Regions from separate parts of the Homo sapiens genome. Here region 2 is linked to region 1. A link means that fine-mapping ties the variant in region 1 to the expression of a gene that starts in the linked region. Tissue or cell type: sun-exposed skin. Region 1 holds a variant in brackets; the other region holds the start of a gene. All regions are shown on one strand. Distances are from middle to middle.

What was found. PIP is the estimated chance that this variant, and not a neighbour inherited with it, causes the effect.
Region 2: PIGK starts here. The variant in region 1 is fine-mapped to the expression of PIGK in sun-exposed skin (GTEx, PIP above 0.99). The same link has a PIP of 0.9 or more in CD4 T cells.

The regions. Positions count from the first base shown.
Region 1 is chr1:77,087,407-77,096,793 of GRCh38, forward strand. It overlaps PIGK (phosphatidylinositol glycan anchor biosynthesis class K), which reads right to left. Exons shown (of 11, transcript NM_005482.3): 11 at 1,583-5,084. The coding sequence ends at 4,968. Among named protein-coding and RNA genes, the nearest start is that of MIR7156, 32 kb to the left of the region's middle. The variant G/C (reference allele first, on the strand shown) is at 4,966.
Region 2 is chr1:77,215,639-77,223,638 of GRCh38, forward strand. It overlaps PIGK (phosphatidylinositol glycan anchor biosynthesis class K), which reads right to left and starts at 3,792. Exons shown (of 11, transcript NM_005482.3): 1 at 3,672-3,792. The coding sequence starts at 3,764. It overlaps LOC105378808 (a long non-coding RNA gene), which reads left to right and starts at 3,882. Exons shown (of 3, transcript XR_001738109.2): 1 at 3,882-4,015; 2 at 5,150-5,355. RefSeq lists an enhancer at 3,476-3,585.

The sequences.
Region 1 (9,387 bases):
CACATTCTGCATTTCTAGGAAGCTACAGGGGGGATACTGCAGCTCCATGAGCCACCCATTGAACAGCAAGTTAGCAGAAAGTAATAAGGGTAACTGCCTGGCTCCTGTGATCCCATCCTTCTCTGGGAGGAGTGCTAATGGGGTATGCCACCAGAGGTCCTTATGGGCTTACAAGACCTTAGCCCTCTGGCCTGTGAACCTGTGATGCCAATAAGGTTAATCTATTCTTCCATAAGACTTGTAGAACTGGAATTAAAGGAAGACAGTAATTTACCTCTCTCTTGTGGTAGAAGCATGGGATATGAGGTTCTATCCATCATGTGAGAAAGTCAGTTTCCAGGAGGAATAAAGGGAACACAGAGAGAGAGAGTGAGTCCAGGTGATACTCCAGTGCCTGATGAGGCTCAGACCTGACCCCACTTCTGAAAGATTATACAAAATATCCTAATATTCTTCTGGCAAATTCCCCTCTTGGCCTACATTTGTTCTACTTTGGTTGTTATCATTTGAAACTAAAAAAGCTCTAACAAAGGGTAGGGAAAGTAGGGGATATGTTCTCTTGGAAATGTAATGCTCACTGTTTTGCAGTACTAGATTATTATCCAGACATCTGCAACCTGAGGGTGAGGAAAGACTGTCCCTTAAATCATGTTAAAGGTATGTTCCCAACAGAGTGGACTGAATATGAAAAAAGAAGACAGTGGAACACTAAGGCTGAGGGAAGATGAGAAAAGCCTCAATCTACCTAAAATAGGAGAAAAATCTAGAAAAGGGAGGCAAGAGAGTCTATGGATTAAAATCGTTGGATAGTATCGAAAGAAACTGTTACCCAAAATTTATGCCTGCTGAAAACAGATGGGAAAAGGACAGTCTAGGAATAGCAAAGCTAATGTTCTCTAAAGAGTGACAAGACCCTGGGCCTGAGTGGAAGTTAAAAGCAAGATAGTCCTGCCCAGCAAAGAACAAAACATTGACTTTTCCTATATGTCAGACATTGTGTGATTTGCTTTACATTTTTTTTTTTTTTTTTTTTTTGAGACGGAGTCTCGCTCTGTCGCCCAGGCTGGAGTGCAGTGGCGCAATCTCGGCTCACTGCAGGCTCCGCCCCCCGGAGGTTCACGCCATTCTCCTGCCTCAGCCTCCCGAGTAGCTGGGACTACAGGCACCCGCCACCTCGCCCGGCTAATTTTTTGTATTTTCAGTAGAGATGGGGTTTCACCGTGTTAGCCAGGATGGTCTCAATCTCCTGAACTCATGATCCACCCGCCTCTGCCTCCCAAAGTGCTGGGATTACAGGTATGAGCCACCATGCCCAGCCAATTTGCTTTACATTTATGACCTTATTAAATGACCCCCCCTAAGAAAGTTTCGCTCATGTCCGTCCCTGAAACTCTAGCACAGTCAAAGCTGGCACTACCATAGTCAAAAGAGAGAAAACTGAACGTGGGTCGTATCATGTGATTCCCACCTGGCAGACCCTATGACTGGGTATACCTCAGCAGGCAAATCTCAGAGTCCTCTGAAGTCTCTGAGACTGCAAACTGTGCAGGTGACACAAGAATGACACTGCCACCTTTCCATGTTTGGAGTAAATAAATTTTTAATAACCAGTTTCTTGGTTACAACTTCATCTATATAAATCCCCTTATTCTAGGATCTACACAGTTAAACCTAATATTTCACAGCACATTTCCAAAACAGTACAGTTTTTACACTAAGAAAAAAAAATAAAAATAAAAGCCTGGTTACCACCAAGGTGTATTGTCCATGAATTGAAAGGCTTTCCTATTTAAGTAGCAGGTACATGTGTAAATAGGGCAGGCAGCAACAGAACAGCAATATTGGAGAACTCTTTCTTTGTAGTAAATGCCCTTGAGTATGAGATGTGACACTGAAGCAATAAGGCCAATTCTTTAAAGCAAAAATGGATACTGATCTCATTGTTTTATAGCCATATCTTGTGGTATGTTTATAACGTATTTCTTTCACATGTTAAAACAGTATCTACTAAAGATGGGCTTAATTTTGGTAAAGTCAACTGAAAAAAGTTATATGTTAATGCAACATTTGTTGTAAAGATTCCAGAAACACAGGAGTCAAAATTTCAAATTATGATTCCCACAGTAACTGTAACTCTGGTATACAACATACATAATGGAAGAAATGTTATCAATATATACCATAGTAGAAAATACTCAGTAAGCAGAAACAAGCTGAGTTATGCTTCTTGTGGGAATCATCATTTTCAACTAGCTGGGAATATATAAAAATCAAAACCATAAATGCATGGATTATTTTTTGCATTTAATTCTAATATTTCTTGATCCAATTTAATCAGCTTTGTATCCAAACTACATTTTCCTTTCATAAACTGCAAATGAATGTCTTTCGTAATTTTAAAATCCACATTATTTGATTTCTTTTTCTCACACAGGCTGCCTTTGCAGGATGGCATCATTATACCCTGTCCCTCCCTGAAATGTCAGGACACATCTGCAGGGATTCATTTATCTACATTCCTTTTCTCTCTGAAGGACACCATGGGGGAGGAGAAAAAGAACAGCAAAGAGAACAAGAATCACATTGAGTAGCTTAGAAAGCTACATAAGTGCACTGTGACCATTAACTTCCCCTTTGGTATCCTCCTAAGCCGACATAAGAACAATAATGCCACCATATATTTACAATTTCAGAAGTGTTTAGTCAAAATACTATCTCATCTGATTCTCACCACAACACTGTGAGAAAGGCAAAAACAAAACACCTTTCTGTTGTTCAGCTTTTGTGACTCAAGTAGAATATATTTAAGGATTTGTTTTTATGATACTGTTTAAAGTGTAGGCCATTTAATTGCACTGACAATATTTCCTAAACGTACTCATCTACCACATGCAGAGGATTTAGTTATTATGAAGGCAGAGTATGCTCTATGTAAAAAGATTATGGTTATAAGTGAAACATTTAACATATTTTAAGCTTTTGGCTTTAACTATATTCTGAAGATTCAATAATGAAACAGAGGAACAACTGCCCTTTGAAATTCTGCTGAGGCAAAATTTATCCTGAATATTTTATCCAGTATTACTTTTCCCAGTTTGGTTTTAACTAAGAAGGGCACCTTCTACAACCTCTGAAGACGAATCCTTTTACTTTCTAGCAGTCTTTACAGGGTATGTTTCATTATATTCAAACTAAATTACTTTGGCTCAAGAACAATCATAATTCCTTTACCACCCTAAATAGCTCCGCCTCACCGTGGTGTCCACGACCTTGTATGAGTGTCTGGAGGGCAACATGGTCAATCTTTTTGTGTCTCAGTGCTACTATAATCAGTCTATTCAATTGCAAGTTTATTTTCCCTTCTTTTCATGTACAGAAAGATCCTTCACATAATCAGACAAAATTTTTCTTCCTCATTTATATAACACATCAATAAAAAGATCAATTAAAATAAAGATTCAGAGCTGGCAAAAAGCCTCAATATCATTTGTTCTAACTAGGGAGATAACACAGTCAATCCTTTGCCTTTTGAAAAGTATGACAATCTTGCATGCAATTAAAAGGTAATATTATAAGTGCAAAAGGAAAAACAAATCTTAAGGAATATTAATTTTAGGAGGTTTTCTTGTGGAGGAAGAGTTGTCTTAATGTTACCTACAATTATAAACAAAATTTAAAAAAAAATCTTTGCACTGAATAAAGATGAACACATAAATTCTTGCATAAAACAGATAAGACACCTGAAGGTATCCCCCCAGACATAAATACTTAACTTTTAGGCTTTTCCTCTACTCATATGCAAAAGTTTGAAAAGAAAAAACAACATCAGGGGTTGGTCATAGCACAGTCTCAATATTATTTCCAAACTAAAATGTCAGTGATGGGGATATGAGCTCTTGCATCTTACCAGAGACTAGAAAAGGGGCTTACTGCCTTATAGGATACATCAGCCAGACATGAAGGCTAGGCCATAAGCATACATTTTCTTCACAGGTCCATCCACTTTATGGGATTTTTCTCAAGGAAAGTATAGATACAGCCAGTGGGCAAGGAGGTTTACCTAAAACAGAATGAAATAAAGTCCTTGTTGGCTCTCTCTTTCAAGATGGAAAATGAAGAGGACGTGACCAATTGTAGAAGATCACAGAACGCTTACAAATGAAAAACAATGGGGTATGTTTCTCTTGAGCAGTCAGTACGTGAAATTATCAAAGGTCTAAAATTTCCCAAATAAACTGACAACAAACATATAAGGTCCTGGAGATTGTCAGTGCCATAGATTAAAAAACCAATTTTTCATCTTTGCTTTTAATTAAAGCTGCAGGATTCCATGAGTGACCAGCAGTAAAATATTAATACATTAAAGAATAAACCAAAGGAAAACATTTGGTACAATGTAAGTGGTCCAACAATAGAAGACTGTGAAATGAATTAAATATTCATAAAGTGAATACTATGCAGTCATTCACAATGTATTTTTGAGAGGGAAAAGGTTGATAATACATTGTAAAATGAAAAAAGACATTACAAAATAGTACATTCCATATGATCTCCATATTGGGAAAAAATATGTGCATAAGTCAAAAGATTGGGAGGATATACAAAAAATAATTAACCAAAGTTACTTCTGTTAGTGAGAATTTAATGTCTTCACAATTGTTTCTTTTCCAAATGAAAAGGGGATAAGGGGAAATTACTATTTTCAAAAACAGTCAATGTATTCTGATCTCTGTCTCATTCGCTTTTATAATACACAAAATACAAAACTGGAATATATTTAGTGCCATTAAGCAGTTGCATTAACAATTATTTTTCTTTAAGTTATAAAATTAATAGTTGATTCAAATTTAGTTTCCTTATACTTATTTCCAATTCATACAAGAGAAACACATTTTTAAAAATATATAATGACATAAATTATTATCCAAGTTTGCAGTCCTCCATGCATTCTTCATTCATCATCAA[G/C]TCTAAAAAATGAACTTCATATGCTTAATTCCATAAGTTTTGAAGAAAACCATGATAATAAGTGCCCATAATCCCAGAATAAAGCCCCCAGGAGGATGCCAGTCTTTCAGCTTCGGTTTCTGCAAAACAAGAATAACATGATAAATTTTATAACAGGTAAATAATTCAGCAATCAATAAAGCAAACATTGATGAAAAAGATAAATTTCACTGGTTGTGTTTGAATGGGGACTAGTTAGTCAAATTAAACACATTGGGATAGCAACAATGGTAAAGACTTCAGACAGGGTAAATATCCTACAGGGTAAACTGGCTCCTAACAAAGATCAGTTTCAGCTTATATTTTGTTTCCTCAAAGAGTCCTTCCCTGACTACCTAATCATACCATCTATCCTCACTCAAGTTACTCAGTAGCCTAACAGTCTTTCTCACTTTGGATTTATATATTCATTAATTTGTCGGTTTTATCTATCTCTATTAGACTGTAGTTTCATGACGGTCATCTTATTATATTCCCAGCACCAACCTGCCATGGTGCTTGCCATTCAGGAGGCATTCATATATCATAGTGAGTAAATCAGTGGAAGAACAAACGCTACCCAATTCCATTCAGCTATTCAACACACACTTGTTTAAGTGCCAGTGCCTTGGGTCATGTTTTTCCCTTGAGGTAGAATGCTCCTTAACCTATTCATTGTGCCTATTCAAAACTCACTAACTCAAATGCCTCCTCCAGACTCTCCCACCTGATATGTTATTTTCTTTGAGTTCCCATAGTACCTGAACTATAACTCCTTCTATTGTTACTCCTATTCACTATTATATTTATCTTTATCATTTATCTCCCTGCACACTCCCTGGGATCAAAGTCCATCTAAGTCAATTTTTTATCCCCCTTCTCTATTCCCCACCCCACAAGTGTCACGTATGCTTTTTTGTCCAGCAAGACCAGTCTTCTCCATTTAGTTGTCATTTCAACAGCTACATTACAGCCTTGTAATTGGAAGTTTGTGACAATGATTTCTTTTCTACTTACTGAATTACTGGCCAAGACTGTAATGACAGTTATGATATTAGAATCACATTTTAGACAATAGGGGAGAGAAATAGTAAGCTAAAATTTGCTTTAGTCATCATGTATAATGTCCATCAATTCAAAATTAACTTTTCAAACTAAAAGGAAAGAAAGCTACCTCAATATTTTAACTTGAATCATAATTCTAGAGTTTTCAGAGCTTTTAATCAAATGCTTAATATAAACTGACCTACCAACGTTTAAAGTGGTTACATTCCATCTTCATTCCTATGCTTACCCTCAACCTCTACCAGTCCATCCAGAAAACTCCCCCAAAATTTATCCCAAAATATTAAATCCAATTTTTCTCATGTTATTTTCCACTTAAGAGTCTGCAGTGGCTTCCACTCAACATGTGTGATGATAATGGCAAAAGTCCTTGCCCTCTAATATCCTACAAGACGGTAAGTTCGGTGGTTCTCAAACCATTTCTAATGGCAAAGCTCTTGGAAGTTACAGTGCTTTCTGTGCAATACTGTGACAAATCTTAATTCAATTCCAGTAGAAAATCTAGAATAATTAATAAAAAGCAAAGCTATATTAAAGATAAGTAATATAAATATCACAAGCACGTGTCAATGAAAAAATAAGTGAGTGAACTAAACAAGACTACTGCTCAGTTTTTGTCCTGTTTATTTTCTACTAGTCAAACAATTTGTAATTCACACAAAAGGGTTGAAAATGTTTAAGATCTAAAACTACTTTTCCACATACCGGGAAAAGGTTACCGTTATTCATTATTAGTGGAAGCACATTTTATACAACCTATAGATATTCCCTGAAAGCCCAGTTTAAAAGCACTGACCTAGTTTGAGAGATCAGATACTGATTTTCCCTAACAACTAGGAGTCCCTCATTTATATGGCATTTAAAAACACTCACAATTAGGTTACTACTGTAAAAAAGTTAAATACATATTGTCAAAATCTGGCACCAATGTAAACTCTTAACTAAGGAGAACAGGCTATAGACAATTGTTCCATAAATCCAATTAATGAACTTCAGTGCTAAAAGACTTAAGAAGGCATTTAAACCAAGTCATGTTTTTCAAAAAATGGTGAACATCATTCAAGCTCTACATTCATCAGAGATTATAGAAACAATAATCAAGTAGTTATAGCACATCTTAATTCTGCAGCTGTAATAACTCCAGTTACTTTCCAATGAGATGGACTCCCTGAGGTTGTAATTTTACTATTAAATCTTAAACTTAGCAGCCAGAAACAGTTGCCAGAGATAAGACAACTATGGAAAAAATAGCATCTTTGAAAGTAACTATCATTTTTCCAAAGATTCAACAACTAGTCCTGGCAGCTATTTTGACCCATTATTCCACAGGCTGGCTTGGAGAATTCTGGAGGCACTTCATTCTGGTCTTTCAACCTCCTTGACAGGTATGTGTTTCACATCTAGACCGCTGATGGCCAGGGTAGGAACAAAGAGAAAATCAAAGTGCTATTTCTCCAACAGCAAACTTTAAAAGTAATAATGGAGGACTAAGAAATATATGTAATTTCTGCAAAATTATAATGGAACAGTAAACTTATTCACATGATAACACTGCATAAGCTACCAAAAGCAGCAAATCCTGGCCTTTCAAAACTGCTCTTTGCAGTTGCTATGTTTCTTAATGTTCGTTCAATACATTTTTTTGATTAATAAAAAATGGAAAATGCATTATGAACTAAATGCACTTTGGACTCAGCTTAAGAAGGTATCTGAATAGAATCCCCTAGTGCAGTCTCTCCCACCTTCTCACAATAATCCATACAAAGGCACAGAAAAAGACAACAGCACACCCTACCAAAATTCAGTTAACCTCTGATGAGAAATCTCTGACAGTTTCCCAGAAACAAGGATTAGAAACAAATTAATGGTAGGCTTAGTTTTCTGTTTGGTATATACCATGCAACGGCTTGCTTTGCTCTGTGAAACACAATACTTCTGCAGCTGAGTAAGGGACTTTAGCTCACTCCCTTTTTCCACCTGCTGTTTAACAGACACAGTGCTTATGCAGTAGAAAGATGGCTTTATGAGGCAGCCAGAGTTGTGTAACTCATTCCCAGTTCCCAGTGGCACACCTCTTTATATGTCCATTTAAATATAATTCCCAGCAAGCAATATGACAAAAGGGTAGGGGGGCACTGACAATGGTTCACTGCTTCCTGGAAGGCTTAGTATCACAGGAAAAGCTCTGCAGAGACCAGAAAATGCAGGGAAAACCCTGTTAGTAGTACACGTTTTAAAAATATGTTTTTTTCCATATACTTCACCTTTTTTTAAGTGCCCCAAAAAACAGGCATAAGTGGCATGGTAGCAGATGATCCTAGTTTAAGCCACATTTAGAGTGGTCTAAGAACCAGTCACTTGGAACCATATAACAACCTATTCCTCAGATACAGATTTGAGAAGGCATTTAAACCTAAGTGGATAGTGAAAACCATCCACACACTCTGTTGGCAAATACCAACAGTGTCCAAATAAAAAGGAAAAATTGAGGTGGGCTCTATGAGGAAAAATCCTCCCAAACATGAGAAATAAATTATAATCTGAAGAGGCAGAGAAGATCTCCCTGAGAAAAATTTAATAAGGAACCAAAAATTAATTTTAGACAATTTTTATCTGGCATGGATTTGAATAAAGATTCACAACGAACCAAAAATGAAAGAACAATATAAAGAGAAAAAGAATACATGATACAAAGACAACAGGCTGAAATAAAAAGGGAGCTGGATGACATAATTTTGTAACAGCAAAATTAAAATCCACATTTACAAGGAACATAGTGTTCTAAGCACATCTTCGAGTCCTTCATTCATCCAATTGTATGTTAGATTGATGGGCAAACATGGCCCTAATTACCCATTCTTGGCTGTGTCCATACCCTCTGCAACGTGACTTTATAGAAGCTGTCAGCAAGAGGTAGAATCTATATCCCTATCCTTTGAATCAGCAGGTCTTATGACTTCTTTTGGCCAACAAAATGCAACACAAGTAACAATGTCCCAGCTCTAAGTTAGCCTCAAGAGGCTTGGCTTGCTTCTGCTCTCTCTCAGACCTCTTCCACCACCAGGAGAAAAAGCCTACACTTCCAGCTACAGAAGAGCCGAGCTTCCCTCCAGCTAATAACCAGCCAACTATAAGGGCAAAACCATCTTACTAATCAAGTTGACCACACCACAGACTCATGACGGAGCCTAACTGAGAACACAACTGCCCAGCTAAACTCATCCTAAATTGCCAACTTGCAGAATTGTGAGCTAAATAAATGACTGATGTTTTAAATTACTAAGTTTGGAGTGGTTCATGATACATCAAAAGTTATGAAATACATCCACAGCGGTGACA
Region 2 (8,000 bases), 130 kb after region 1:
TTCACAATAACCAAGATATAGCATCAACCTGAGTGTCTATCAGTAGATGAATGGATAAAGCAAATGTGTGTGTGTGCGTGCACACACGTGTATATATAAAATGGAGTATTATTCATCCATAAAAAGAATAAAATCCTTTCATAAACAGGTACGTGGATGAACCTGGAGGAAATTACATTAAGTGAAATAAGTCAGGCACAGAAATTTAAATTTTTTAATTTCAATATCACCCAGATACGGACATTTTTAAAAACTTGATCTCATGGAAATAGAGTAGAATAGAGGCTGGGAAGAATAGGAAGGTGACGGGGGGAGTACAGAGAGACATTCGTTAACAGATACAAAATTACAGATAGCAGGAATAAGTTCTAGCCTTCTATAGCACTTTAGAGTAACTATAGTAAACAATAATTTATTATATTTTCTCAACTACCTAGAAATCTTTTCTAACATTTTGAATATTATCAACACAAAGAAATGATAAAGTTTTGAGGTGACAGATATGCTGATTACTCTGATTTGATCATTTCATATTGAATATGTCTGAAAATATCACACTATATACCCCATAAATATGCACAATTATTGTGCCAATTAAAATATACATATTACAAAAAGAGAGGCATCGCTTAAAGAGAATACAACATTGGTCAGAAAGTAAAGTATCTATTTCTGGAGATTTGTGAAATATCATTAACAGATTTTAGAGTGTACATGTAACCCTCAAGAATATCAATTTTCATTAGAATATCATTTGCTGTAGTAATACAAGTTAATTCTTACGTTAACTACCAATAGAGATGGAAAAAACTGATCTCTGAAATTACTATGGCTAGGATAAAATACCCTTAATTTAGCAAGGCAATAACATAGTATTTCACATTAAATGAAACTATAATGGGTTGTCTATTGTTAAGCATTGTTTCTGATAAATTGACATGATAAATATAGAATAATAACCTGAACAAAAAGTGTGTGTGTGGCATGTGTGTGTGGGGGGGTGTGTGTGTGTGTATTTTTCCCCCTCCAAACTCAACAGCTGCCTGGATGTTAAAGAAAGCAATGTGCTACAGTGGTTAAGCATTGATTTGGGAATTCAAAGACCTAAGCTAAAATTTAGGTCCTATCTCGCAACTGGCTGTGAAATTGCGGTAAGTCATTTAGCTCTTTAGACTTGACTATCCTCATGTCTCTAATGTGCCTTCCACCTCCAAAGTTCTTACTTCTTTCAGACCTTAGTGAAAAAATTTAGATGGCAAAACTTTTTTGTGGTTGTCTAGACAATACAGTCATTATAAAGTTATTCATTCTACATACAGTAAATGCAGCACCTATTATGTGCCAGATACCATTAATATATAGTGATACAAAAATCACTAAAAAGCATGCTGCTTTCTCTCAAGAATCCAGAGTTCAATAAAGAGGAGCATGCAAACACATTACACTATAATTATTACATTCATTAATTCATCACACTCATTGGGCAACATGCCAGTCACTGCCCTGAGTGCTCCAAATACAATGCTGGGCAAAAATAGCCATAGTACTGCCTTCAAATAGGTTACTATCTAATTGGATAGATATACATTTAACAGATAAGGAAAGACACACAATATAATAAGAGTACAACAGAGGGACCTGACCTGGTCAGGAAAGTTTTCCTAAAGAAGTGACTGTTGGGTTAAAATCCAAAAGATGAAGAAAAGAGGAAATACAATTCCAGACAGAGGGGAGACAGCTCTAATGTGAGAAAAAGCTTAAAGGTTTTGAGAAACTGAAAGAAAGTTAGCCTAACTAGAAGTTTGAAAGAGAAAGAAAAAATTTGAAGTGTAGTCAGGGCCCAAAAAATATGCAGGGTTTTTGTTTGTGGGTCATGGTGGAGAGTTTAGAGCAACATTAAGGTGATCTTTTGAGCAACATCAAGGTCCCTGGGTGACATGATTGGAACTGCATTTTTAAAAGTTACTCTGGCTTCAATTTGGAGAACAGATTGAAAGGAAAAAACAACGACTCAAGGCAAAACATTTAGGAAACTGTTGCTCCTATCTCTAAGTGAGATATGATGGAATAACAGTACAAACCATACACGGGTTATAGTAAATGAGTGCTGTATCAAGTGTACAAATTACAAGAGTAAAGGCAAAGGTAAGAGATAGGGAAACGTTCTACAGAGGTTATGCCTTTACTGTATCTTAGCACATGAACAGAGGAAACACAATGTATAAAATATTGTAATGTGAAAAAGCACAGCAATTATGTAACTACAAAAAACAGTAATAGTATCCAAGATGAAGCAGTCAAAGTTAGAATAAAGGAGGGAAACAGAACTTCTATTTACTCATATTTATGTTCTCTAAAAATTATGCTATATAAACATCAAATATATAAATTAACAGTAATTCATAAATATATATGAAGTTCATGCTCAATATCTTTTTTTAACTGATAGGGTGTGTATTCAAAAAGTTTGGAGTCCACTGGTCTAAGCTCAAGGTGCCCAGGTGGTGGGGAGAAGAGGTTCCAATATGGAACACTGGAAAAGTAGGCAAGCACCAGGTCATAACGTTTAGACTTTATTCTGTATGCAATTAATAAATATTTAAAAGATTTCATCAGAAGAATAACCTGATCAGGCTTACATTTCGTGTAGACGAATCTAGCACCAAACTCAGGGAGTATGGAGGCCTATGGAAAACAAGATAAAGTAATCGCAAGAGTCTAGACAAGAAGTGATCACAGCCTGAATTAAGTCAGTGGAACTGGAGAGGTGAGGGCAATTTTAAGAACTCAGATCACAAAATTTAGTGATAATTAGAATATGGGATAAAGAGATTAAGACTCTCAGGTTTCTAGCTTAGGAGCAGCACATCTGGTTGAGAAATGGAGGAGAAAAGGGGTGCTTAGTTTTTCAGTGTCTTTTTAAGAGGAGGTAGGATAAGCAGAAGATAAAACTTTGCACACGGATTTTCAAATGTCTCCTGACTATCCCGGATTCTTAGTCAGCTGGATATGCAGGCCTGAAAAAGATACCAGACATCTAGATTGTAGACCGGGACTGAGGAATCATCAGAGTATGGTGAATAGTAAAAGCATTATAGAGCACCAGAACATCCTGTGTCCACGTTTAAAAATGGGAAGCTGGAGGAGCCCAGGATAAAACTAAGCACCCCTTTTCTCTTCCATTTCTTAACCCAGACGTGTTGCCCCTAAGCCAGAAACTTGAGAGTTTTAATAAACACTTATATTTATCCCATGTTCTAATTATCACTAAATTCTATTATCTGGATTCTTAAAATTGCCCTCATCTCTCCAGTTCCGTCTGACTCCTATCAAAACAGAGGGCTGCAGTTGAGTAGTAGGAAAGCAGTTGCTGCACACTGACATTTCACGAGCCTCTTGCTCGTATTTCACCTAAGAACTGCACACATGTAGGAGCAAAGGATCAGGTCCTCCTCTGTCTCCGAGGGTTTGATTATTTCAATTCATCGTTTTAAAACGCTGAAACAGACCAACAGTGTCCTAACCCGTGCCCAGTGATACCCTCCTCAAACCCAGCCTGGGTCAGGGGCTGATTGACTCCAGGAGGCGTCCCTCAGCTACTGTGTATCGGACATCTGCTGGAGGGCTCACAGCCGGCCTCCCGGCTGTGGTCAAATGAGCCTGACTCCTACCTCGATATGACTAGCGGCCACGCTGCCGAAGGACAAGAGCAACACAGTTGCCAAGACAGTCGCAGCCCGGCTGAGGCTGTCGGTGACGGCCATGTTTACCGGCTTCAGACTTCCCGCACCTGAAGGGGCGGAGGCAGTGCCGTAAAGTAGCGCTGCGGGTTTTTGCGACACCATCCGCGCCTCTTCGAGGTGGCCCTCTGGTCCGGCTTTAGAACTCTGCGGTTTTGTGGAGCTCGAGAGTCCGGGACAAGGTAGACGCAGGATATTGACCTTTTTATTTTTAACTGCATTTTCAGTTTGGAGGTTGTAAAATAGGTATAACATTTAAGAAAAAAAATTGAAAGGTGAGTGGAGGGAAAACCCGTAACTCCTTAAACTTTAAAAACTTATTTCTCTGTTCCCTTATTTATTTTATTTATTTATTTATTTATTTATTTATTTATTTTGCCGAGTGCTGCCAATTCTTTGAAAATATGAAGCTGGATGTGGTGGGAAGAACAAGCGTTTTGGCACAAAAAGATGATTAATTGGATAAACTATAAATGGAAAATGTGGGTGGGCGCTGCAATTTAGAGGCTTGGGGTCTACTACCTGGTGAAAGGATTAACATGGGAAGCTAGTTACGTTTTTGTTTCTTGAGTATCTTCTGTAATTATGGAACTAAAGCCTATCTGGAAGAGACACAGCTGGTGTATATGTATGGTCCACCATTCTCTTTATTATGTGAGTTCAGTTTTAATTTATGCATTTCATCTAGTATGACATAAACGTTTCCACGCTGCTTCCTCACAATTTTAACATTTAATGGTGAGATAAAATTCCATCCATTATTGATGCCTCAGCCAAAGTAATTGTCCCTCTGCTGCACAATGCAAAGTTTTTAAGTTTTACTATGAAAATAATATTGTAAAGAGTATCTTTTGTGTGTTTGGCTTTTTAAATCTGTTGAATTATTTTGTTTGTATAATTTTCCTGAACTAGGAATTTGGGGTCAAAATATTCCAAAACATTTTAATAACTATAAATGATGTTGCTTTCCAAAATGAACAAGCTTACAGCACTATCAGAATACACAACACCAAACCATACCATTTTTTTTCCTTTAAATTCTTTGGTATGAAATGTTACCCCTAGGTAACTATACTTATAATTCTTTGGTTACTATCAAGATCTGATGTCTTTCTTGTGTTTCTAAACTATCTCTGTGTCCTCTGATGTAAATTCTTTGTTTATATATTTATGTTTTGCATATGAATTTGAATAATATATTTATAAATAAGTAACATTAGCCTTTGCCATATTTTATGCTATTGCTTTTCCCATTCTCTTGTCTCTCTTTTCCTTTTATTTGTTTCTTTTGCTATTGCACTTTGTGAGAGGTTTCATGCTATTTAGTCAAATTTAGGTTTTCCGTTACGTGAATCCTAGAAAGTAAATACACTGCCAGAATATCTTCCATGTATTCATTAATTCAACAGATATCTATTGGATGCTGATGATTATGAAACAAAGTAGCAAAGATAAGAAGCCATTTGCTCATTCTGCTCCTTTGCCAGCAATATTTCACAAAGCCCCTGACTCATTGACTGTGAGCAGCCTTGTGGAAGAATGCCTTGAAGACCATAAGCAGGATAGGGAATAGGTTTGCACATCTCTTGCCTGAATCACTGAATTTTTACAAAAGGTAAGTTTGGTGATCCTAGCCCTTGCCTCTTCCTGTACATAAGATAATGTCTGACAAGATTAATGATTATGCCTCAAATTCATGACCAGATGTAACTTCATACCCACACTTTGATGAGACTTTACTTGTATTAACCCATTTTCATACTGCTATGAAGAAATACCCAAGACTGCATAATTTCTAAAGAAAAAGGCTTAGTGGACTCACAGTTCCACATGGCTGGGGAAGCCTCACAATCATGGTAGAAGATGAAGAAGGAGCAAAGGCACATCTTACATGGCAGCAGGTGAGAGAGCATGTGCAGAGGAACTACCCTTTATAAAACCATCAGAGGCCAGGTGCAGTGGCTCACACCTGTAATCCTAGCACTTTGGGAGGCCGAGGCAGGCAGATCATCTGAGGTCAGGCATTCAAGACCAGCCTGGCCAACATGGCAAAACCCCATGTTTCAAAATTAGCTCAGTGTGGGGGCACATGCCTGTAATACCAGCTACTAGGGAGGCTGAGGCAGGAGAATCGCTTGAACCTGGGAGGCAGAGGTTGCAGTGAGCCAAGATCACGCTACTGTACTCCAGCCTGGGCAACAGAGCCAGACTTTGTCTCAAAAAATAAAATGAAATAAAATAAAAATAAATAAATAGATAGATAAATAAAACCATCAGAGCTCGTGAGAACTCACTACCATGACAACATGAGGGTAACTGATCCCATAATTAAATTACTTCCCATCAGGTCCCTCCCTTGACACTTGGGGATTATGGGAGCTACAATTCAAGATGAGATTTGGGTTGGGACACAGCCAAACCATATCATTCCACCCTGGCCCCTCCAAAATCTCCTGTCCTCACATTTCAAAAGCAATCATGCCTTACCAGCAGTCCCCCAAAGTCTTAACTCATTTCAGCATTAACTCAAAAGTCTACAGTCCAAAGTCTCATCTGAGACAAGGCAAGTCCCTTCTGCCTATGAGCTTGTAAAATCATAAGCAAGTTAAGTTACTTCCTAAATACAATGGGGGTACAAGCATTGGGTAAATACACCCATTCCAAATGGGAGAAATAGGCCAAAATGAAGGGACTACAGGGCCCATGCAAGTCCAAAATCCAGCAGGGCAGTCAAATCTTAAAGCTCCAAAATGATCTGCTTTGACTCCGTGTCTCACATCCAGTTCACGTTGATACAAGAGGTAGGTTGCCATGGTCTTGGGCAGCTCTGCCCCTGTGGCTTTGCAAGATACAGCCTCCTTCCCAGCTGCTTTAACAGGCTGGCATTGAGTGTCTCTGGCTTTCCCAGGCATATGCTGCAAGCTGTTGGTGGATCTACCATCCTGGGGTCTGGAGGATGGTGGCCCTCTTCTCACAGCTCCACTAGGCACTGCCCCAGTGGGGACTCTGTGTGGGGGATCCCACCCCACATTTCCCTTCTGCATTGCCCTTCTGCCTTAGCAGAGGTCGTGCATGAGGGCCCTGCCCCTGCAGCACACCTCTGCCTGAACATCCGGGTGTTTCCATACATCCTCTGAAATCTAGGCAGGGTTCCCAAACCTCAATTCTTGACTTCCGTGCACCCACAGTCCCAATATCACATGTGAGCAGCCTGAGACTGCACAAAGCAGCAAGGCCCTGGGCCCAGCCCATAAACCCATTTTTCCTCCTTGGCCTCCTGGCTTGTGATGAGAGGGACTTCCAGGAAGACCTCTTACATGCCCTGGAGACATTTTTCCCATTGTCGTGGTAATTAACATGTGGCTTCTTGTTACTTATGCAAATTTCTGCAGCAGGCTTGAATTTCTCCGCAAAAAATGGGTTTTTCTTTTCTATCACGTCATCAGGCTGCAAGTTTTCCTTTTATGCTCTGCTTCCTCTTGAACGCTTTGCCACTTAGAAATTTCTTCCCTCAGGTACCCTAAATCATCTCTCTAAAGTTCAAAGTTCCACAGATAACTAGGGCAGGGGCAAAATGCCACCAGTCTCTTTGCTAAAGCATAGCAAGAGTGACCTTTATTCCATTTCCCAACAAGTTCCTCATCTCCATCTGAGACCACCTCAGCCTGGACTTCTTTGTCCGTATCCCTATTAGCCTTCTGATCAAAGCCATTCAACAAGTCTCTAGGAAGTTCCAAACTTTCCTACATCTTTCTGTCTTCTGAGCCCTCCAAGTCTCTAGGAAGTTCCAGAGTTTCCCACATTTTCCTGTCTTCTTCTGAGCCCTCCAAACTGTTCCAACCTCTGCCTGTTACCCTGTTCCAAAGTTGCTTCAACATTTTCTGTTAACCTTATAGCAGAGCCCCACTACCTCAGTTCCAATTTACTGTATTAGTCCATTTTCATACTACTGTGAAGAAATAGCCAAGACTGGGTAATTTATAAAGAAAAAGAGGTTCAGTGGACTCACAGTTCCACATGGCTGGGGAGGCCTCACAATCGTGACAGAAGGCAAAGGAGGAGCAAAGACACATCTTACCTGGCAGCAAGGCAAGAGAGAGAGCATGTGCGGAGGAACTGCCCTTTATGAAACCATCAGATTTCCTGAGATTTATTCACTATCATGAGACCAGCAGGGGAAAAACTTGCCCCCATGATTAAATTACTTCCCACCGGGTCCTACCATTGACACATGGGGATTATGGGAGCTACAATTCAAGA